Homo sapiens: one gene and its partners. The protein of the gene in region 2 interacts with the protein of the main gene of each other region in a biochemical or structural test. Each region holds a gene or a part of one and is shown on either strand. Other genes may lie near its edges. The genes, in order: DDAH2, SCGN, MLF2 and DOC2A.

The links.
Region 1: the proteins of SCGN (region 2) and DDAH2 form a complex in vitro, tested with the Homo sapiens proteins (one study listed by BioGRID).
Region 3: the proteins of SCGN (region 2) and MLF2 form a complex in vitro, tested with the Homo sapiens proteins (one study listed by BioGRID).
Region 4: the proteins of SCGN (region 2) and DOC2A form a complex in vitro, tested with the Homo sapiens proteins (one study listed by BioGRID).

What each region holds. Positions count from the first base shown.
Region 1 is NC_000006.12:31,726,520-31,733,293, forward strand, and holds DDAH2 (putative hydrolase DDAH2), read right to left. Parts: upstream 2,781-6,774; 5' UTR 2,643-2,780; coding exon 2,346-2,642; intron 2,227-2,345; coding exon 2,127-2,226; intron 2,006-2,126; coding exon 1,932-2,005; intron 1,774-1,931; coding exon 1,654-1,773; intron 1,174-1,653; coding exon 1,024-1,173; intron 835-1,023; coding exon 718-834; 3' UTR 521-717; downstream 1-520. Other genes in the region: CLIC1 (chloride intracellular channel protein 1), read right to left, coding at 4,323-4,484, 5,698-5,879. UniProt on the Homo sapiens protein: Putative hydrolase with unknown substrate. Does not hydrolyze N(G),N(G)-dimethyl-L-arginine (ADMA) which acts as an inhibitor of NOS.
Region 2 is NC_000006.12:25,655,184-25,662,233, reverse strand, and holds part of SCGN (secretagogin), read right to left. Parts: intron 683-7,050; coding exon 590-682; intron 1-589.
Region 3 is NC_000012.12:6,747,496-6,750,141, forward strand, and holds the end of MLF2 (myeloid leukemia factor 2), read right to left. Parts: intron 2,513-2,646; coding exon 2,353-2,512; intron 1,488-2,352; coding exon 1,300-1,487; 3' UTR 1,275-1,299; exon of another isoform or gene 1,053-1,274; 3' UTR 501-1,052; downstream 1-500.
Region 4 is NC_000016.10:30,008,005-30,015,356, forward strand, and holds the start of DOC2A (double C2-like domain-containing protein alpha), read right to left. Parts: upstream 3,024-7,352; 5' UTR 2,899-3,023; intron 2,232-2,898; 5' UTR 2,219-2,231; coding exon 1,957-2,218; intron 1,554-1,956; coding exon 1,474-1,553; intron 1,273-1,473; coding exon 1,198-1,272; intron 1,102-1,197; coding exon 992-1,101; intron 1-991. UniProt on the Homo sapiens protein: Calcium sensor which most probably regulates fusion of vesicles with membranes. Binds calcium and phospholipids. May be involved in calcium dependent neurotransmitter release through the interaction with UNC13A.

The DNA of each region.
Region 1 (6,774 bases), 6.1 Mb from region 2:
CCTTGCATATACTTTGATGCCCTAGGGCGCACCCCCTTTATTTCCCTCATAGAAACAGCCTTCTGTAAATTGTTCCATGACAACCTGTATTTCAATTTGTAAGAAATTTGCATGTACTGTGAGCTCCCCAACGTCAGGAGACTGACCCTTTTGATATCATTGCTAAGCCTCATTAAATGAATGAATGAAAATGAATGTCCCTGGAAGTGTCATTTCTTTTTCTTTATCAAATAGGGGTGGACTGGTAATCTACCAGTCTCTGAATCATCTAACATTTAGATAAATTCAGTGAGCAATCCACCCATACACTCTTTTCTCTGCCCTGGACACACTTCCCATGATAGAAATTCTGTCTTGTTCATCTTGTGCTCAAGTACCTATGACATGGTTGGGCAATGAGTTGATAAGTACCTAACAAGATTTTTGAATAAGAGGCCTTCTTCCCTGCACTGACCCCAAACTCAGGTTTCAGCCCTGCCCTATCCCTTTGCCCCAGTAAGACACCAGTCACAGCCCAGTCTAAAAGGTCAATTCTATTTTATTGGTTCTGAGAGGGAGGATTCACCCAGTGGATCCTTTTCCCTACACTCTCCCCTCCCCCAATATTGAGGCTCTCTCCCAACTACTGCCTATTCAGCATTCTCTATCTAACCCTCCTTCCCCTTCTACTTCCTATACTATCCTACCCCTGGCCAGCAGTACCCCAAGGCCAGGCCCTCAGCTGTGGGGGCGTGTGCTGAGCACCAAGCAGAGGGAGCTGAGCCCGGCGCCAGCCTTCTCCAGTTCTGAGCAGGACACAGGTACCAGGGTGACATCAGAGAGCTTCTGCAGTGCCTGCACAGGGAAGACATGGAGTGGGGAGAGGGGAGTGAGACCTCAGGCTGAGCCAGGCCACTCTTCCAGCCAGCTCAGAGTGGCCCCACCCAGGCTTCTAGAGAAGGTACCCTTCCTTCCTCCCACTAGGAAAGCCTGAAACTCTTTTCTCTGATGGTGCTTGGTGTTGGAGTTCCTGCCCTCTCTCACCTCCTGGCTGTTGGGCAGATCCCCACCTCCACGGTGCAGGAGGAAAGGGGGCACACCAGGCAACCCAGGACGAAGAAAGAGACAGTCAGCAGCTGCGTCATCTGGGAGGGTCAGGGAGGCATATGGGTGATCTGTCAGCACTGCCATTGCCTAGAGGAAAGAGGAAGTGTTCGAGTCTCAGAACCTCTCCACAGCTGTGTCTGCCTGCTCAACCACCACTAAGGGCTGGGGACGGACTGACATTTGTGGAAAATAATGACAGCAAGCACATAGAGCTTACGATATGTCAGACACTAAGTACTTTAGTTACCTTTGCTAATTTCCACCTTGGAATCACATGCAGTTATTTTCAACCCCCTACCTTCCCCAGCCCCTCCTATCTGTCCTACCCATCCTTAGAGTCACAGTTTAGGTGCCACCTTTGGGGTTTCCTGAAACTCCGGAAGAGCAAATTAATCACCCCTGTTCCCAGTCCTGCTGTTGTAACTTCTTATTTTCTCCTGTGTTCTTTCATGTAAGATGGACAGCCCATTGAGGGCAGGGGTTAGGGCTAATTTCCTAAGCCTCCCAGCTCCCGGCCTCCCGGGCCCAGAACTGCGCCCACTTTCGTTGGCCCCGCCCCCTCCTCACCCGGACAGCCTTTTGGGCAGCGTCGCTGCTGCCTGCCACAACAGTGCGAGGTCCCCCCATGCCGCAGAGACCGCGCAGGTGGGAGGGACCCGAGACTGGCACAGTGGAGACGGCGAAGTCCTAGGGAGAGCGAAGGGAGGTATTCAGGGGCGCGGGAGGGGTGATGGGGTATCTTCAAACATAGGCTGCTCTCTGCCTCTCATTTCCTCAGCGGGCGCCCAGGCCCTTCCGACCCCCACCTGCACCCCCTCCCTCCCTAGGCTGGTCCCGCTCCGCACCCGGAACGTGTCCGCCACGATCTCAGCTCCTCGGTGATTGGTCCATTTGGAGAGGCCTACGAAAAACTCCCGGCCTGAGTCCGGGAGGCCGCGGAGGTTTGAGGGCGGGAGTGAGTTAGAAACAAGGCTCCAGACGGCCGAGTCTCCCAAACTCTACTTCCCTGTGCCAAGACCTATGCCTCCCCCCAGCCTCACCGGTGAAGAGAACGTCAGTGCCATCCAGCGTCGCGTTCTCGTCTCCTATTTCCACAATTCGGAGCCCCAGGTCTTGCAGGGCTTTGCGGACTCCATCGACCTTAGGATAGGAGAAGAGGGCACGGAGCTGTGACACCCCCATCCTCAATTCTTCCCCAAAGCCCCGACATCCAGTTCCTTCTGCCTTTCCCCATACCACACCCGCGCCACGGCGCTCACCTCTGGCCTACGAGCGGGGCTCCAGGGCCGCGTGATTAGGGCCGTGTCCCCTTGGATCACGGCCGTGTCGCCAAGCAGCGGTCCCAGCGGCAATGACTCCTCAGGTGGCAGTTCTAGCAGCTGTAGCCCCAGTCGTTGCCTCAGTTTACCTCCCAGCACCCCGTGCTCCCTTTGAGCTTTGGCCAGATCCAGAGCGGGAAGGCCAGCCCCCGCACCTTCCCCCGACGCCAGGCTCTCTGGGACTCCCCGGATCAGGGCATGGGAGCAGCGGCCCAGCCCCTCCCCCGGCGTCCCCATCCCATCCACACAGACTCCCCCTCCAACCGCTCGGATTTCTTAGTTTTCTTGTTTCTTCACCTGTCTGGGAGAAGAAACAGAAAAGGAGGAGACAGAGAAAAAGACATGCAGACAAGGGCGTTGGGGGTGGTTAAGAGCGCCCAGGTCTTCCTCCTGCCATCTCTAGGCGTCCCTCCCACTCCGCCCCACCCACTCCAGACCTTCCGCTCCTGTCGACCTCACTCTACCCAGCACCCTCAGGGGTCAGATTCTTTAAGAGGAGCCTGAGGAACAAGGCTAGGGTCTCTAATCTCCAAAACACCTGTTGCCCCTGCTTGGGGGCTTGTGAGGTCCCTGTCGGGCGCCCCTCTTGGCAGCCACTAGGATGCGCTCACTCCCCAAAAATGCAGCAGCCCCGCCCCCTTAACCCTCAGCTGCTCGCTACCGCAGGGACTGGAAGTCCAGCCCGCGACCCGCAGGGGTTATGGGACAGAAGGAGAAAGCTGGAGAGGCAGGGGCTGGGGAATGGAAGTCCTGAATACCCGAACGAGAAGGGAGAGAGGTGGGTAGGAAGGGAGGAGTTCGAGCCTAAGGAGTTAAGCATCCTCTCTCCGCCCTGGCTGGTCACGCTGCCCCTAGCGCGACCTAGTATAAACCAGACCGAGTCCCGAAGGACTGGGAGAGGTCTAAAACGAAATGCGAGGGGCGGGGTAACAGGGGGCGTGGTTCCGGGGCGCTGGCACTACTCCCGGCTCCAGGACCCGGTTCCCCGTCTATGTCCCAAAGTCCACCCCGCCTAGCTCCGCGCCCAAATACCGGCTCCCCATACTCTCTGTCTGGTGCAGGCATGGGCCCGGCACCCCCAAACTCCGGCCCCCACACGGTTCAGGGCCCCCCACGCAAGACTCACCTCCAGCGGCCACCCCCACTCCTGTCGCGCTGTGATCTCGGCTGGGGCCCCACCCCCCGAGGACAGAGTTGGTGGAGAAGGGAGTCCCCGTCTTCAAGCCTCGGGGACTGGGAGCTCTGGCTTTTAGCGCGGGTCCTTGTGTAGGCGAGCTCATATACTACGATGGGGCAGGGGCGCGACGGTCTGGCGGCTCCGGGGCATTGTCTAAGCGGGACGGGGCGGGGCTTCTTCGGGCCACGCCCATTCCGCCCTGCTAAGCCTCGCCCATTACATCCAGACTGCGCCCCCCTTGCCAGAAATCGGCACCGCCCAGCGAGCGCTGCCCAGGCCCACCCAGATCTGGCCGGCCCTGGCGACGGGGCTGCAAACGCTTCGTAGACCTCAGAACAGCGCAACGGCGGACCGGCGGACCGGCACGAAACATAGCAGCCCCACCACAAACATTTCCCTTCTTAATTCCTGGCTTCTGCCCTGAGCTCAAGATCACTGACCCACCCCTCATTCCATGTCGCCCACACTTTAAATCCCCATTGCGTAAAAACACTTGATTTTTATTCTGTATTTTATTACTGAAATATGTTGTCCTACTCATCCCACCCCACAATAAAAATCTGACCCAGGCCCCCCATTTCTTTCCCTCATCCCCTCTTCCACCACACCATCCCGGAACAAGTGCTCCAGGATTCCCTGCCCACTGGCCATTTTGGAGTGTGTCCATTGGGTAGCAATGTGGAAACCACCAGGGCCTTTGTGGAGAAAATGGAGGGGGTTGAGGGAGTCCCAGGAGGGGCTTATTTGAGGGCCTTTGCCACTTGCTCATAGGCGAGCTCGATCTCCTCATCATCTGGACAGGTGGAAGCGAATTCTTCCCGGGCGTAGGCATTGCTCAAGTACCGATGCACTCCCCGGAAGGCCTCGGGGATGGTGAATCCCCGGTACTTCTTACACACCACCTGAGGATGGGGAGAGGAGAGGGACCAACATGTTAGACCCAGGGAAGCCACCTTGGCTTTCCCTTCTCCCCAGGCCGACATGATAAAACCAGCTCAACTCCTCACTGTCTTGTACTGTCGTTAGCCTTCCTTCTCACTTACTGAAATCCTGGCTTTTAATAACCAGCCATTTTTCCTGAGTTTTTAAAACTTGAGATATAATTTACTTATAAAATTCTCCTCTTGAATTTCCACAGTGACTTTTTCCCCCTATACCACTTCAGGCACTGACACAGGTGACTTTTGTCTCTATATTTTTCATCAGACTTTTTTTTTTTTGAGATGGAGTCTTGCTGTCACCCAGGCTGGAGTGCAATGGCGCGATCTTGGCTCACTGCAACCTCCGCCTCCCGGGTTCAAGTGATTCTCCTGCCTCAGCCTCCCAAATAGCTGTGATTACAGGTGCCCACCACCATGTGCGGCTAATTTTTGTAATTTTAGTAGAGATGGGGTTTCACCATGTTGGCCAGGCTGGTCTCGAACTCCTAACCTCAGGTGGTCCACCAGCCTTGGCCGCCCAAAGTGTTGGGATTATAGGCGTGAGCCACCACGCCCGGCCCATCTGACTTTTCATCATATATTCTTAACTTTCATGTGAATATTTTATTGTCTCAGATTTCAACCCTTTGAGAGCAAGGCCCAGTCACCATACACTTGTGTATCTTTCAATGCTTAGTACACAGATGTTCACTACATAGTTGTGTGGCAGACTGATGTCAGGCCCATGTTGCACAAACTAAACCATAGCTTTGAGACTATGACAAAAACATGGGAACCAGCAGTTTTGATCTTCCACAAGAGGAAGTGAAGACTGAAGTTATAAAGAAAGTTAAAGCTTTGACTTTAGGAAAAGCCTGCTCTGTCTAATCTGGGAATTTGGCAGTGATACCGAGACAGGAAGAGCATTCTTCAAAAGTAATACTGGGATGTATTCCTCTTTGCTAGTCTGTTTGCACCCATGACTTACATCATGGAATATAATTATCTCAAGCAGTGGTCTTGTTAGCAATGACTGCTGCAAAGGACTGGGGTGGGGTCTGCCATTGGTAGCAATTTATGAAAACCACCCTAAGAAAGAAATCGTCTTTAGAGTGGTTGTCAGGGGAAGCCCATGTGGGAGCTCCTTAAAGGGCCACTCCAGTGGTCATCCTCTCCTCCCGCAATAACCACACACCTGTACTATGTGTAACTTTGGCAACAGGTTGCAGTCAGCCAGGGTGAGCTCGTTGCCATCCAAAAACTTCCTCTGAGAGACACCTTCATCTTCAGCACTGGTTTCATCCACTTCTTCTGGGAGGGGGGATGTTAAGTAATTGTCTAAAACCTTCAGGGCTTTCAGGAGTCCCTTCTCCAGATCTGTGCAAGAGAGGGAACTGATTAGAACTTCAGGAAAAGATTGACATAGTCCGAAAAGGCCCGTTGGGGGTGGATACTAATGGTGAGTCCAAAATAATAATAGCTAACACTCATGTAGTTACTTTTCTATGTGTTATTCTAAGCACTTTACATTTTATTTTATGTTAGACGGAGTCTTGCTCCGTTGCCCAGGCTGGAGTGCAGTGGCATGATCCCGGCTCACTGCAACCTCTGCCTCCTAGATTCAAATGATTCTCCTGCCTCAGCCTCCTGAGTAGCTGGGATTACAGGTGCCTGCCACCACAACTGGCTAATTTTTGTATTTTTTTCAGTAGAGACCAGTCATGTTGGCCAGGCTGGTCTCCAACTCCTAACCTCAGGTGGTGCGCTAGCCTCGGCCTCCCAAAGTGAACACTTTACATTTTACAAACTCATTTATATCGCCGGGTGCAGTGGCTCACTCCTGTAATCCCAGCACTTTGGGAGGCCGAGGCAGGTGGATCACCTGAGGTCGGGAGTTCAAGACCAGCCTGGCCAACATGGTGAAACCCTGTCTCTACTAAAAATACAAAAATTAGCTGGGCGTGGTGATGCACGTCTGTAATCCCAGCTACTCAGGAGGCTGAGGCAGGAGAATTGCTTGAACCCGGCAGGCAGAGGTTGCAGTGAGCTGATTGCACCACTGCACTCCAGCCTGGGCGACAGAACGAGACTCCATCTCAAAAAAAAAGAAAAAAAAAAATTTATATCAACCCATGAAATAGGTATTGTCATCCTAATTTTGTGGATCTGGAAATGGACTTACAGAGAGGTGAAATGATTGCTCAAAATTATACGGCTAGTTGGATTTGTACTCAGGTAGTCTGGATCTAGAGTGATGACTGTTCTTAAGCAT
Region 2 (7,050 bases):
AACATTTTTGTAACTGGAAGGAGAAATGATCAGGTAAGTTGTAGACCATCCCCACAGCCCTACACATGTAGTATAGTTACATGCTTTAGTATGTGCTCCATAAAAGTGGGTTGAGTTGAAGTAAAGACACCTATTGTCTGTCGTGCTTTTAATAATCTTAGGGATAGATCTTTCCCACCTGCACTGGGAGCTGATGCTGAAGTTTAACCTTATTTATTATCAGTAAGTTTTTCCTTATATCAATGTTCAATTTGAACAGGACACTGTATAAAGAGACAAATAGTAGATCAAGTAATTGAAAGGCCTCTATCATTTCAATTCCCAAATTATAAAACAGGTACAAATATTGATTGACCTAAATAAAATGATAAAAGAATTGCACACTCTTTGTTACTAAGTAGATGAAAAAGGAGAGGTGATTACTTTTAAAATGCTATCTAGGCCAACTGCCTTTCAGAAATCTCTAATTTCCTGATCAAATGTAAAGTTTCCATTGTCTTTCAAAGAATATTACAGCCCAAGACGATAAAGTAAAGAAAAAAACAGTCAAGAAGAGTAGAGCCATGAAAAATACTGTCAGTAAAGTTACCTCTTTCATCCGAATGCGACCATCTTTAGAGGCATCTTGGGTAGTCATAAACTGCTGTTTCACCTTGTGCAAATTTGCTTTCATGACCGTGTCCTGCAATTGACCAAACAGAGCCACATTAAAGCCACTGGAATCTCAAAGATATAGTTAGGATGGCAAATATTCAAAATATACAGCGTGAAAATTATGTTTTTCAAACATGGAAAGCAGGTTCCTTGACCATTTAAAGTGATTTTACCCTTTTGTAGAAGAGAGAGCAATGCTGGAGATTTCTTGAGCAACCAAGCACTAATCAGAATCTTGACTAGGTACAATTTACAGTTAATGAGTTACTAAAATATTGATGAAAAGAAGCTTAGAGACTAGGGTGCTGAAAGAACAAATTTGAACAGTGTTGTATTTGGTTGTGACAAAAGACTGTATTGTAATTACAGATTTTCTTCCCAATAACTCAGAGATTTTACATTTTTTAACTGAAAAGTCCAGTTCTTCTGGGCCCCCAGGTGTCTGTAACTCATTTTTAATCTTCTTTTGTATTCTCTGAGGAAAAAAACATAATGAGAAGGGAGAAATAATTAAAGAGGAGACCAAAGTAATAAGGTAATTGCCGAGTTAACCAAAGATGTTACAACTCCCTTCTATGTAGAACCTTAATTGTCTTCTTTGGTGGATTTTATGGTTACTACAGTAAAAGTGACATATGTAACCAACAATAAAGAATGAATTCTGATGCAAGGGTTGAGAAGCATAGATAATCCCAAACAGTGCCCAATTGTAAGATTCTAGACTTGCTGAAATTTATGCTAAACTCATTCTCCCTAATACTATCATGCTGTCTCTTGTCCCAAGCCCTCCAGCTGTAAGTTAGAAGGGCTGAGAAGAGGTAATCCTGTTGACTCATTATCCTCCCTGTTGGTGTTGGGGGTGGAGGTGACTCAGCCTTCAGCACACTCTCTGGATGCATCATCCATGCACATGTGTACAGGACAGTTCTCTGGGTGGCCTTGGGCTAACTCAGTTCTTCTGCCTTTCTCACTTGTATTTCTCAAGAATAACCCCAGCATGTGCTGGTAATGCAACATCCTGAGATAAGGAAGAACTTGCCAGAACAACCCAGGTGCAAGATGTCCTAAAACACTTTAGCCCACCACAACATGTTGCTTTCAGGTATAAAACCCAGAAAAGACTGCTTTCTGTCAAGCACCTACCATGTGCCAAACACAATTCTGGCCCCTGGTGATATTATAGTCAGCAAAAGAGACCTGGTCTTTGCCCTCCATCACAGGCTGGTGGAAGGCATCTTTGTCCAGCCTTCCTTTCCACTGAGACCTCTCCCTAATGGGTTACAAAGAAAAGAGGAGACGGTGGAAAGAGAATTGTGGTGGGGAATTAACAGCTGCCACATCCAGTTGCTAAGAATAGGAAAGAAGAGCAGGTGAATAAACATTTTTGGACTGCCAGCCAGAGGATGGGCACTAAGCCATGCTCTTTAACAAATATTATCTCCCTGGATCTTCACAACGGCCCTGGGAGGCAGAAAAAAATGTACTATAACCTTTAGCCCCTGGCTTCCTTGCTGGCCTGCTAGCTTCTTCCTCTTTGGGGACCTTGTTTTTTTCTTTTGTGCTCCAGCTTCTTACATGGAAATTCTCCTTTATCATTTTCCCATCACTGGCTGAGAAAATGTTTCTGTTTTTTTTGTAGTCTTGACTCGGAGGGGCTGTCAGTCCTCACCTCTTCCCATCAGGCTGTCATCTTTTCAGTTGACCTCTTGCATATGGCAAAGAACTTGCCAGAACAACCCATGCTCTGTTTTAGTCCTTCCTAGAACAAAACGTCCTAAAACACTTTAGCCTGGCACAACATGTTGCTCTCAGGCATAAAACCCAGGGAAGACAGCATATGGCAAATGTTTTCCAGTGAGTAGAAAATCTAGTAGAAAAGTAGTACAAACTCTCTACCTTCCAGATCTTAACATATGAAGACTAATACTCAAATTCATGATAATTTTATCCATTGCTGCAACTATAAATCAAAACGTATGATTCCTTCAGATTAGTCTTTGTGATTTAGAAGCAAAAGAATAAAGAAGAAAAAAAATCAGAGGATGTTTGGCACCCTTTCTAAGAATCTGAGACACTACCCTTTCATTTTACTGATGGAGAAAACAGGCCAGAAGGGTGATGCAGCTGAATACTGGCAGAACAATCTTGAAACCAGCATATTTGATATCTGGTCTAGTGCACTTTCCACCGCACCTTGTTGTTGGTTGAGATGAGGCAGAGAACACCTAATGGAGTCATTGCATTCCAACATTAAGTCGTTAATAAATTAGATGGTTCAAACAAAATGCAAGGACAGCTTGATGACTTGCTTTGGGGATTTTTCAGGATGGGTTCTGGCAACTAGTTAGATAACCACAAGCTTTAGATATTATAAGACCCTGAAGGTTTGAAAGCATATTCTTAGAAAACCAGGGAACACTTTGGTCAGCAAAAACAATTTTAATGCTAGGGAAGTTCCTGGGCATTATGCTAGACCTCAGCCCCTGATAATTGTCATCCATCGTACCAACTCATTGCAGGAGGTGGGTGCATAGCAAATGTTTGATGTCGGGTTATAATAGTGAGGTAGAAAAGATGCTGTGAGCTGACAGGATTTAAGCTATTGGATCCTCTAATATCTGATTCTCTAAACTTCCAGGATTGGTGTGGATACTGGATATATAGGGAACTGCCAAGTTTCATGTCAGTCAGTAGTTTGCCTCTTCCCTGTTCAATCATACACAAACTTTTGTCAGCAAGTATAAAGATAGAATTGTACTTCCTTTTTTTTCACTTGTTGCTTTTTTGCTGCAAATGATGATAAATAGATGAAATGCATGCAACAGAAAGAGGTTAATGAATTAATGGTTTGTATAGTTCCCAAATGGATAATAAATAATGAGGAATAAACTTTATTTGAAATAAATTGCAGTGAAGGTGAGTCTCTTTGTGAAAAAATTAAAGTTATATGAACAAGAACTAAAAAATAGCATCTATATGTATAGCTATTCTTTAAAATTATAAACCCAAACCAGTAGCATTTGTGATTGAGATGATGTATCAGTCAAATGGATCTGTGCATCCTAGCCATATCAAGGTCATCTGCTATACCTCTGGCTTTGGTCCTGTATTTAGAAACCCAAAATGATTAAAATAAGAGGACTTAGACAGTCTGACTCTGTCAACATCAACCAAACATACTCATATGGTGATTATAAATGGGGAACAGTGAAGGGTCTAGTTAAAAAAAAAAATGAATACCAGATGGGCATGGTGTCTCATGCCTGTAATCCCAGCACTTTGGGAGGCTCAGGTGGGTGGATCACGAGGGCAGGAGATTGAGACCATGCTGGCTAACATGGTGAAACCCCGTCTCCATTAAAAATACAAAAAATTAGCCATCCGTGGTGGCACGTGCCTGTAGTCCCAGCTACTCGGGAGGCTGAGGCAGGAGAATAGCTTGAACCCGTGAGGCGGAGGTTGCAATGAGCCAAGATCGCACCACTGCACTCCAGCCTGGGCAACAAAGCGACACTCCCTCTCAAAAAAAAAAAAAAAAAAAAAAAAAAAAAAAAAAAAAAAAAAAAAAAAAAAAAAGGATACCTTTCTAAATGAACACACACCAGACTAAAAATGTGAAAAAATACATTAGTGATTTGGAACCAAAGCATCAAGTGAAGAAATGAGAGATAATGCCTGTATCATTTGTCTAAGACAGAGCAAGTCTAACAGGTCCCTGAGGTGACAGTCTGTCTTCTGTCTTCCTTTGAGTAGCCTCCTTTACTCATGAAGGACCAAAGAGTGGTGGTGAGTATGACTTAAGGCATCCTCCAAAGGCTACCCTAGCTTGGAAAACTTGCTCTCATAAACTGGAAATCATATATATATGCACACACACACATACACATATATATATACACGTAATATATATATTATATATATATATAAAATCTTAAAAGCATTTCAGTGTTTAAGAGAGTAAGCTTCAATGATCCTGTGTGGGATAACCCCTTGGTGGATCTGAGGCAAAGTGGGGCATAGAATAAACACTGGGAAAACTAAGGACCCAAGAAGATATTGCGTCAGCATAAGAACATATATGTTGGGTGCTTTTGCAACTAAAAGCACCTTTCACTTGTGTTATCTTATGGGTCTTCACTGTGAAACAGGCAGGCCAAAACATTATTCTAATAATTATTATTTTATGGATAGGAAAATTGAGACCCAGGAGGTTTAAATGGCATGTTGCTATCACACAGCTCTAGATGGAGAGACAGGGAATGAGCATTGGATTTCTGCCTCCACACATAGTTGTCCTTTCCCCACCGACCATGAGTCTTCTTTGGAGTGGGTCTTCAGAGACAATAGGTACATTTTTTTTATTCTCTGTGGAAGGTGAACAGGTTCTTTGAGACTCCAGGTTCTTCTGTCAACCAGGTTACCTCATGTGATACCCCACTAATCGTGGTGGGATTAACCTGTCTAGTTTCAGCACTAAAGATTTTGTGTGTGCTTACATTTGAGGGTTCATGTACCATACAGGAAAAGCACAATGGAAATCACTCAACAGGGTCGAACTTCACTTTGAAATTCAGCTTGATCTTTTAGATTAAGAACTCCACAAGTATAACATTCATTTCTTTATCTCTGGAACACAGGATCCATTGGATGAATAAATGATTCTTTATGATGGGCTGGGAATTCCCAAAGGAAGTTAACTAACATAGGTCATGTTGGTGAAAAATTAGATTTTAAAGTAAATAAATGTGAAGTCAAAGTAACAGTGGCCAGATTCTACATTACCTTTAGTTTGAGGACACAGAATCTTGGCTTCTGTCTTCTCAGACCCCTAACCCCAAAGCTCATGACTATCCCTTTGACCTAAAGCAAAAGAAACTGGGGCTTCCTCTGTTGTAATTTCCCATCAGTCCTTATCTGAGACGCTAGGCTACAGCAGGGTACTATAATCCCTGAAGTATTGAAAGAGGCCCAGGATGTGGTACAGTCTGTATGTGAGGGGTATGTACACATAGAATCTGATGTTTATCCATGAACTGGCTAAAATCTCAGCATTTGGAAAGAAAAGGTTTGCAGGGAGTAACAGAAACAGCAGCAATTGCAGCTGATGGTTCCATTAAGTCAATCCCCTCCGAGGCTCTGAGGAATAGGTAATTACAAGCAGGCTGGTTGCTCTCCTGGATAGACTAGCAGGCAGCTTGCTGTTAGAAACCTCAAAATACCTTCTTCTGAGATCTCTGTGATCCGCTAATCATCAGAGGAAAGTAGAGCTATTCATGCCTCTGAAGGTTGGCTTACCACTGCTGAACACCAGAGCAAGGGGCTGCCTGATTGTGGAGGCCTCCCTGCTGCTGGATTCTGTACTCACTGGGCATTACCAATCAAAAGCAGGTGTCACAATCAAATGGTGACTGTTCCTCAACTGAAGGGCCTTCCATTTTGGAAGTCCTGCCCTATTGTTAAGAACTTGCTTAAGGCCTACTTATTACTCATCAGAGACAAAACCCAAAATTAGGAATAGCTTCCTTAATCATGGTTGTCCAGGTAGCATGGAGTGCCCAGTGAAAGTCCCTGCAAACACACTCCCCAGAGTAATGCCTCAGCGTTTTGAAAGGCATCCAATGGCAGATGATATCATTTCTAGTTAAGAGTTCAAACTTATCATCCTGGCTCCAAAAGCTTTCTTCCCAGCCAAGTGCTCATGAGATGTGCCTGAGGCTATTGCCACAGCTCAGTGGGATTGGCCTAATTATATCAGAATCCCCTCTCCAAAAGTCACTGTTCCTAGAGGAAAAAAGGGTAAAAAAACATGCTAACTGACTTTGAGTGCTTTTAAAATGAAAGATCTTTGGCAGACCCCAAATGTATTTAAATACCTACAGGATGAGACCTAGGGGTCTGCATTTTAACAAAAAAATATAATTCTCAGGCATACTGAAATTTGATTTGCACTAGGTTAAGGATTATGAGAACTTCCAACCCCCGTTCCAGCCTCAGAGATATTTGCACTGAATGCAGTTGCGCAGGACACCAGTGAGTCCTTTGCTGTCCTCTTTCCTCGAGGATTATGCTTGCCCCTGTGTAAGAGCATTAGTCCATGGACCAGGTCTGAGATAGGGGCAATGATAAAAACAGCCAAGCTGCAAGAGATGACATCCCTCTTTTCTCTCACAATGGCAACAATGCTTCTAAGGTTAGCCAAAATCTCAGATGAAGATATCTCACAGCATCCTCATCTTAGTGCAGACCCCAACTCGATGAATGAATATTAGATACTCCAGCTTCAACAGTGACAGCAATTTTTCTCCTCCCTTTTATAAATGACTAGAACAAGGAGCCCTCTGAAAAGGTGAGAAGTTCCAGGTCCCTGAGGACAGATTTTTAGGAGCTGGCCATCCC
Region 3 (2,646 bases), on a different chromosome or scaffold from region 2:
CCTGCTCAGGTTCCAGGTTAGTTTTCTTCTCTAGGCTCCTTCCCTGGGCTCAAATTCTCAACTACTGTGGGTGGAGGGTTTGTGGAACGCTGCAGACCAGAGTTCCTCCCCTCTGAAGGCCTGTGTAGGGTTATCTGAAGTGTTTCCACCCAGAGTGCAGGAAAGAAACTCTGTCCAAGGGGCAAGGGGCAGCAAGTTCCGCAGGCACCCATGAGAGATGCCCAACACATCCCTGAAGAGCAAAGTTACAGCAGAATGTGAGGGAAGAGCCAGCGAGAGAGGTGCTCATGTTCTCACGCCCCAGCCTAGCCCAGCCAAGTGCTCACGGCCTGCACCTGGCAGTGCTGATGGTCTGTCCGTACCAAGGAGATGTGGGCTTGAACTCTGAGGTACGAAGACTACAGGTGGAGACGAGGAAAAGTGAGAAGGTAACTTCAGAGGAGACAGCAGGGTTGAATTGAACAGGAAAAGATCAAAAGTACAGCCAGAATCCCACTTGGTCTTTTTTCCATTCTCCTTTATTCCATAAACACCTAGTTACAAGTTGCACAAATCAAAAAATAAAGGCAGAGAAGGGTGTAGGGAAGATTCTTTTGATGTGTGTGGGCAGGAGGAGGGAGAGAGTTAGGAACCAGTCTGCTCCTTCCACAGCCCTAGATAGGGCTACGGCCCCTCAGTGGGGGCTCTGAGGAAGAGGTGGGCAAAGATCCAGGGTAGCTGAGGGATGGAGGGGGCCCCTAAACCCAGAGCTCACCCCAAAATGCATTGACCCTTCAATGCATGGCAGGAGTAGGATGGGAAAGGTGAGGGGGTTTGAAGATGGAGTGGCAGAATGAAAAATCAAGTCAGTAGATGCAGAGGCGAAGTCATCAATGGTAAACCAGGAGATTAAAGAAGGAAAAGGTAGGGAAAGGGTGCCGTGAAAGGTTCTCCCTGAGACCCCCAGGGAGAGGTGGGGGCCGGCTTGCCTGTTAATTTAATATTAAATTGGGGATGGGAATCGAGAGGAAAAAGTTATTCAGGGGATGATTTCTCAGCCTCTCAGCCTGTACCTGGAGGGGGAAAGAGAGAGGAGCACAAGTCAAAAGGAAGAAAAAACTTACGTTAAGAGCCAGGAGTTGGGGTTTAATCCCCTATGTCAGTGAGAACATTGTTCTCTTTCCATGTCAACTTGTACTACCAAAGGCAGCTCCTGCGGGAGCCTGAACTGAGCCTGCCTTGCAGCCGAGGACCGTCCGCAGGTGCACCCCACCCTCCTTACTCCTGATACTTACAAGAGAGGCTGAGGGCCCGGGGCCCTCACCAGTCATAGCGGCGGGACTGTCGGGAAGGGGAGTCCTCAGGTCCCTGGATGGCCAGGCGGGGAGGCCCCTCCGCCCTTCGTCCCCCAGCCCCTGAGGACTCAAGCCGCCGAAACTCCAGGGGACGCTGCTGCCGGAATCGGGAGGTCTCCCGCCGCCACTCGTCATCAAACGCTGCGGCCTCACCTGGAAAGGACAGAGCGGACATGAGGCCTGTGTGCGGCCTGGCTCCTGGAGGCCGATGTGCGAGCGAGCCACAGCTTTTCGGGCCAAAGCGGCGAAGGCTGAGTGTGCGTGCAGGGATGGGTGGGGTGGCAATTCCCTTAGCTCTTTTGGTTTCTGCACGGTCCCAGGAAGCCACCGGTAGGCGTAAGGTGGCCTACTGGAGGAAGAAATCAGAATGGGATTATTCTTCAGTTCAGGTTCACAGTCCTATGTGCACACTAGGTACTTAATAATTGCGGATTTGAAAAAGATAAAGAGGGGAGAAAGAAACGGATCAAGGTGGAGAAGGGTGTAACACTATCAATACGGAACTTCAGGGACAAAGTAGGCCCCTCACAAAGACACCGCCAGCACCTGACTCCGCCCGAGCGGAGGAGGCTCCAAGTGCGGTAAGAATATGGGACTGACAGTTGGGTGCAGTGGCTCATGCCTGTAATCCCGGCACTTTGGGAGGCCAACGGTCGGTGGGTGGATCACAAGGTCAGGAGTTCGAGAACGGCCTGCCCAACATGGTGAAACCCTGTCTCTACTAAAAATACAGAAATTAGCTGGGCGTGGTGGCACATGCCTGTAGTTCCAGCTACACGGGAGGCTGAGGCAGGAGAATTGCTTAAACCCGGGAGGCGGAGGTTGCAGTGAGCTGAGATCGCGCCACTGCACTCCAGCCTGGGCACCTGGGCAACAAGAGCGAGACTCCATCTCAAAAAAAAAAAAAAAGGAATATGGGGCTGACCCAGAGCTTTGCCCCAGAAGTGTCTATGTGTTAGGGATGTCCACGGGAACCGGGTTAGGGGCTGCCAGCCAGGAAGCGGGAGGGAAGGCTCACTCTCATCCAGGTTGATATAGTCCTGCCGCTCCTCCTGGTCCCCCGTGCGATGGTTTCGGGAGCGCTGGAGGATGTGAGCCCTGTCCCGGATGTGATGCCCAATGGACATCTGCTCCAGTCCACTGTCTGAATCCCGAACAGTCCTCCGTGTCTCCCGGATCTGGGATGAGGCAGAACGTGGCACACTCAGCCGCCCCTTCCAAAGCCCTGCCTATACCATCTCAGGATAAACACACCACACACAACCCAATCCGGAAAAAAGCAGCCAGGGTTTCTGGCGGTGCCGCTCAATCC
Region 4 (7,352 bases), on a different chromosome or scaffold from region 2:
ATTCTGGTTTTGGCCTCTGGCCTCCCCTCCATTCCACCCGAATAGCTGAAACCAAGGTGGCCTCTCTGCTGCACAGCCCTGACCATCAGGGAAGGTCCCAGCTGCAAATCCAAGCACAAAGGCAGAGGTCTCTCCAGAGCCTGGGTTTCGCTGCCCGCCACCTGACTTGAGGGAGTACTCTCCCTACATCTCCATCTCCTAGGATGACGGAGCAAGTTCCCTGTCCCTGAAGACTTCACTCCTTAAGAGATTTTAGGGGAACTCAAGGCACGGAAGGGGCAGACCAAAGCTGCAGAGGTCTGGCTTAAGCCAAGGGCTCTGAGAAGGGGTCTCGGCAACCCAGGAACGTTTTTGGGAGGGGGCAGAGCTTGGACTGAACCTCAGATGAGCGGAATTTAGGCTGGCAGGAAGGAGCTTTCCAGATAGAAAACAACAGGAAAAGTTCAGGAGTTGTGGAACTGGCCAGTTGGAAGAAGGGAGTCCTCTGTTTGAGGGGCAGAAGATACTTTTGTTTTGTTTTTGAGATGGAGTCTCCATCACCCAGGCTGGAGTGCAGTGGTGCGATCTCGGCTCACTGCAACCTCTGCCTCCCGGGTTCAAGTGATCCTCCTGCCTCAGCCTCTCGAGTAGCTGGGATTTACAGGTACATGCCACCACGCCCGGCTAATTTTTGTATTTTTAGTAGAGACGGGGGTTTCACCAAGTTGGCCAGGCTGGTCTTGAACTCCTGACCTCAAGTGATCCGCCCACCTCGGCCTCCCAAAGTGCTGGGATTACAGGTGTGAGCCACCACACCTGGCAGGCAGGAGATATTGAGGGGCAGGAATGGCAGGGAAGAATTTTGGCCTGCTGCCAAAGGGGCTAGGGAGCCGCTGATGGTTCTTGAGCATCAGAGAGGTACGGGCTTAATGGGACATAGATCAACCAACCAGCGGTTACAATGTCAGCTGTCCCCGAGCTGCTGCTGGGTGGTGGGGAGGGGGGCCCTCACCTGAGCACCTTGTGCGTGATGTCGTCATCTGTGATCCCGCTGTAAGTCAGGTCCTCATTCCACACGGGATTCAGTGTGTTCCTCTGAGTCTTCGTTTTTAGCTTATTGGCCTGGGATGTGGGGATGAAAGGTTCTCAATACCTGTCCTCCAGCCCCACAGGCTGGAGTCATGGGCTGGGCCGGGCGGGGCGAGAGGAGGCTGTTACCTTACAGGCTCCAGGCAGCAAGTGCAGCTTGACGTAGGGGTCGGCGAGGCCATTGAAATCCATGGGCTTGAGGCCCTGGAGAGGAGGGCAGGGGAGAGGGCTAGAGGCTCCCGGCACCTCTCTCCATCCCTCTTGTAGAGCTGGACCCTGGAGGAGCCCAGAAGGAGGGGGCAAGGGCAGGACGAAGGAGCAGGCCTGGGAAGGGAAGGAGGAATGGGCCCCCTCTGGGGGCTGCACGCAAACCGGGCCCGGGCTTGGGTGGCAGGGAGTGCCCACCTTGGCCCTGAGGATGCTACAGTGCAGAGTGCAGGAGGCCCGGTCGTAGAGAAGGTCAAACTCCAGCGTGCCTAGGGCGGCTGGAGAGAGAGGAAAGGCAGCATGGGTCGGTATGGAGACAGGTGTGTGCGAGAGGCCAGCAGGTGGGCACTGGCTCTGTGTGTCTCTCTCTCTTGCCAGCCCGCGAGTGTGAGTGCAAGAGGCTGAGTGGGCCCATGCGTGTGTGCGTCTGGGTCCCTGGCTCGGCCGCAACTGGGGCTGTGTGGGTGGTGGAGTGTCTCAGCAGAAATACTGAATATTGAGCCTTGCTGAAGCTGTAATCTCCACGCTGACTGCAGCTGTGGTGGCCGTCCCTGCCACCCCCCCACTGCCCTCCTCCCCTACCTACATGCACAGCCAGCAGGGCCCATCCCCCTCTCCCCCCACCACGGCAAGCCTGGAGACCCCCACCAGCACATGGGGCCTCCAAGCCCCCAGACTCACTGGCATCATCCGAGTCATAGCTGTCCACCTCCGCACCATCCTCAGGCGTGGTGGCCCCAAGGAGGGCTGCAGGGGGGGCCAGAGCCAGGGGGACCAGATGGGCGGGGGCCTCCCCGCCGCCCCCGCCGCCCCCTTCAGGTCCTGGTCCCCGGGGGAAGTAGTCAGAGATCTGGCGGATGGGCCGGATGGGCCCGGGGCACACGTTGATGGCCATGTGCTCCTGGATGTTGATGGTCATGCGATCGCCCCTGCGGCCCCTCATGCAGCACCCCTGGCTAGGAGAGGGCGTGTGAGCCAGTGAGCCCATCATACCTAGCCATCCTGGCTGAGGGCCAGGCGACGGCCTCCTCGGTCTGTGGGGCCCTCACTGGCCTCCCTTCCTAGGTGTCGAGGGAGAGGGTGGTGTGTGCCAGCCGGTGGCAGGTGGGAGGCCTGGGCCCTGCAGACCCCAAGCTGACTCCACAGGGGCTGGGCTGCCAACCCACTCCTTGCAGAAGTCGAGGTTGCACCACCCCGTCCTCACCCACCCACTTCTAGGTTGTCCCTGTATCATCTTGCCAGCTCCTTCCTCTCCTCCGGGGCTCCCCTCTGCTCCTGAGCCTGCCTGTCCCCCAAGGGGCCCTGCAGGGCCCCGCCTCTGTTTCTCGGAGGCTCTGTCCTCCTCTGCACCAGGCGCTGGTCTAGTCAGGGTGTCACCCACCCCTCTAGGCTCCAACTGCCCACTGTCCCCTCATTCAGCCCCAGGACCTGTCTGCCTGCCTGGTTCCCCCGCTCGCTCACCACAGCCCACGGTGGAGACCCCAGCCTCAGATGCCACCTCTGGCTCCTCAGGGGAGCCAGAAATTGCAGCCGCAGGAGAGCCGAACACCCCCGTAGCGCACACAGGCTGGCACGCTTCCCCGCACCCTCACGCCCCCGGCCTGCCCAGCCCCCTGCACCTGCCTCTGCCTCCAACAGGTGCCCAGGCACTGGGGGGACGGCGGGCGCAGGCTGGGCGGCGGCGGCCGGCGAGGAGAGCGCGGAGTCGAGCTGTGCGAGCCGAGAGGGAGGGAGCGCCGAGAAAGTGCGGGGAGGAGGGGGTGAGCGAGGTGGAGGCGAGGATGCAGCCGGCGCGGCGGCGGGGGACGGGGAGGGGCGCTGGGGCTGGGGAGGGGGCGGGATCTCGGACTCCCACCCGGGGCCCGCTCGGGAGCGCACGCGAGCGCGCACACACACGTGTGCTCGCGCGCGCACACTCACGCAGGGGCACGCGGACCGGCACACACTCGTGTGCACACATCCAACCGGGCACCCCCGCGCGCACACGCCCGTGCCCACGTGTGCACGCTCACACCCTTGCACACACCCAGGCGCGCGCTGGCACACTTACCCGGAGAACTTCGCACACACACGCACTCGCAAACACGCGGGCTCCCTGCGCCACCAGGAAGCAGCCGCCAGAATCGCCGGGTGTTCCCCAACTACTCCTGGGAGACCTGGCCCCCCGCCCCCGCCCGCGCGCGCGGCCACGGCGCCTCCCTCCCTCCCGGGTCCCCAAGGCCGGACCACCGGCCTCGTTGTCATGGCGACGCCGGCTCATCTCCCCCCACCCCCGCGCGTCTTCACGCCCCTCCCCCGCAGGGAGCTGGGGCCTCCCTCCTCCCTTCCCCACGTCCGTAGGGACCCACAGGTTGACAGGAGCAGGGGGTCGCCTGCTGTCACCGGCCGGGGATCTCGGGGTCTCCCGAGCCAGGCTGGGGAGCCTCACGATCTGAGGGAGGAGGCAGAGGTCTGATGCTGCGGCTTCCCCCACGCCCCCTCCCTTTGGCCGTTCAGGCCTCTCTCCTTGTGGCCCAACCCAACTCCCAGGGGCCCATGTCCCCTTACCAGGGATGGTATCTCCTTTGGGAACCACCCTCCCCCCTGCCATCCCCAGTTCTGCCCCGCAGGTGGGAAGGGGCGTCGGGGCTTGGCTCTGAAGGTCTCAGAGCCCTGCGGTAGTTCCCCATGGGCTGCCATTTCTCACCCAAACCTTGCCACCCCCAAGCCGCCCCCCTGCCCGGCCCTGCGCCTGCCACGGAGTGTCAGTCCACCCCTGGCCTTCGGTCTTCACTCACCTGTGCCCCAAACTTACCATCCCGAAGACACGAAGGGGCTTATCACCCTCGCTGCCCACCACTGACTCACCCAACCGTTTCCTGCAGTTCCTGGGACACACCTAGACGGCTCAGGCCTAGGGATCTTGGCTCACATGCGCTCCTCTACCTGGGAACCGCGCTTCCTTAGGAAGTCACCGTGGGTCCCCTCTTCCTAGGAGCCTTCCTGGGGCATCCCGCACTGCCCCTCAGCTCCAGCGCCGTCAGGACTCGGCTCAGCACCGCTTCGCCAGTGCCTCCCCCACCAGCAGGGAGTTCCACTGGAGCGGCTGATTCATCTGGGAGTCCCTAATGTCCCAAACTGGGCCTGGCACGAAGTCGGCATCTCTAAGTGCTGTTATTTAAAACAGCAATCTGGTTGCACGACAACTGAACATACCTAACACCACCTAATCTTACCCTTAAAAATGGTGAAGATGGTACATTTCGATATGCGTATTTCACGGCAATTTTTTTTTTTTTAAATAAGAGAAATGGGGCCGAGAGTGGTGGCGGGTGCCTGTAATCCTAGCTACTCCAGGGACTGCGGCGAGAGGATCGCTTGAGTGAAGCCAGCCTGGGCAACACAGTGAGACACAGTCTCTTAAAAAAAAAAAAAAAAAAAAGTAAGAGAAATGTAAAGTCAACAACACTGAGGGGGCGGGGCGCAGTGGCTCACGCCTGTAATCCCAGCGCTTTGGGAGGCCGAGGTGGGTGGATCACCTGAGGTCAGGAGTTTGAGACTAGCCTGGCCAACATGGTGAAACCCCATCTCTGCTAAAAATGCCGGGCGTGGTGGTATGTGTCTTGGGAGGCTGAGGCAGGAGGATCGCTTGAACCCGGGAGGCGGAGGTTGCAGTGAGCTGAGATCGTGCCACTGCACTCCAGCCTGGGCTGTAAGAGCAAAACTCAGTCTCAAAACAAACAAACAAACAAACAAACAAAAAACCCTGAGATATCACTTATTACCCATAAAATGGGCAAAGCCAAAGTGTCTGGGCTGGGGGGAAGCTGAGACGGACTGATCCCTTGAGCTCAGAAGTTCAAGACCAGCCTGGGCAACATGGTGAGGCCCTGTCTCTACAAAAAAAAAAAAAAAAAAAAAAAAAAAATCCAGGCATAGTGGTGTGTGCCTGTGGTCCCAGCTACTCAAGAGGCTGAGGTGGGAGGATCTCTCTTCTTTTTTTTTCTTTTCTTTTTTTTTTTTTTGAGATGGAGTCTCGCTCTGTCGCCCAGGCTGGAGTGCAGTGGCGTGATCTCGGCTCACTGCAAGCTCCACCTCCCAGGTTCATGCCATTCTCCTGCCTCAGCCTCCCGGGTAGCTGGGACTACAGGTGCCCGCCTCCACGCCTGACTAATTTTTTTGTATTTTTAATAGAGATGGGGTTTCACCTTCTTAGCCAAGATGGTCTCGATCTCCTGACCTCGTGATGGTGGGAGGATCTCTTGAGCCCAGAAGGTCAAGGCTGCAGTAAGCTATAATCACTCCACTGCACTCCAGCCTGGGTAACAGAGTGAGACCCTGTCTCAAAAAAAAAAAAAAAAAAAAAAAATCCTTAGACCCAGAAATTCCACTTTTAGGATTTTATCTTACAGATATGCCAACCCATAAGCCAAATAATAGAAGTTCAAATTCTTTTTTTCTTTTTTTTTTTTTGAGACAGACTTTCACTCTTGTTGCCCAGGCTGGAGTGCAATGGTGCGATCTTGGCTCACCGCAACCTCTGCCTCCTGGGTTCAAGCAATTCTCCTGCCTCAGCCTCCCAAGTAGCTGGGATTACAGGGGCGCACGCCCCACACTTGGCTAAGTTTTTGTATTTTTAGTAGAGACGGTGTTTCACCATCTTAGCCCCGCTGGTCTTGAACTCCTGACCTCATGATCCGCCTGCTTCGGTCTCCCAAAGTGCTGGGATTACAGCTGTGAGCCACCGCGCCTGGCCATGAAGTTCAAAATTCTTAAATGTAGCACGTTCCAAAAGACTGGAAACAACTGAGATACCCAGAAGCAGGGGACCAGTTAAATCAGTCATGATGTAATTCCATGCAGTGAAATAGGGTGCAGCCACAAGAGGCTGTTTTGCTCTTGTTTAGAATCATCTTTTTTTTTTTTTTTAAATATACAAGGTCTCACTACTTTGCCCAAGCTGGTCTCAAATTCCTGGACTCAAGCAATCCTCCCGCTTCGGCCTCCCAAAGTCCTGGGATTACAGGCGTGCGCCACTGTGCCTGGCCCTAGAATCATTTCACAGTTTCATTTTAACTTAGAAAAGCCAAGTGCAGGCCAGGCGCCATGGCTCACGCCTGTAATCCCAGCATTTTGGGAGGCCAAGGCGGGTGGATCACGAGGTCAGGAGATCGAGACCATCTTGTCTAACACGGTGAAACCCCATCTCTACTAAAAATACAAAAAATTAGCTGGGCGTGGAGGCGGGCAACTGTAGTCCCAGCTGCTTGGGAGGCTGAGGCAGGAGAATGGCATGAACCCAGGAGGTAGAGCTTGCAGTGAGCCGAGATTGCGCCACTGCACTCCAGCCTGGGCGACAGAACGAGACTCCATCTCAAAGAAAAAAAAAGCAAAGTGCAGGCTGGGCATGGTGGCTTACACCTGTAATCCCCGCAATTTGGGAGGCCGAGGCGGGAGGATCACGAGGTCAGGAGTTCAAGATCAGCCTAGCCAACATGCTGAAACGCTGTCTCTATTAAAATTACAAAAATTAGCTGGGCATGTTGGCGGGCACCTGTAATCTTGGGAGGCTGAGGCAGGAGAATTGCTTGAACCTGGGAGGCGGAGGTTGCAGTGAGCCGAGATCATGCCACTGCACTCCAGCCTGGGCAACAGAACAAGACTCCATCTCAGAAGAAAAAGAAAAAAGAAAAAAAAATCAAAAAAGAAAAGCAAGTGCAGAGAAGCATGCTTGGAATACTGCCATTTGAGAGGGAAAGAGCTTAGCCGTGTTTGCTTAGTTGTTCATATGTTGTTTCTGGAGGCCTGCACAAGAATGGTAACTGTGTCTCTTGACAAGCTGAGAGAGTGAAAAAATAAAAATAATAATAAAAAAATAATAAATACACAGAAGAAAATATAACTATGGTGACCTCTGGGGAGACAGGGCAGGAAGAGGAAAGACTTACTTTTCAACGTACATCCTTTTGTATTTTTTGAATTTTGTGCCACATGCATAGGTTACCTGTTCCAAAGAATACATTAAAATAATAAATTTTGGTATTTCTTTGTTTGTTTGTTTGTTTGTTTGTTTTTGAGATGGAGTCTCGCTCTGTCAC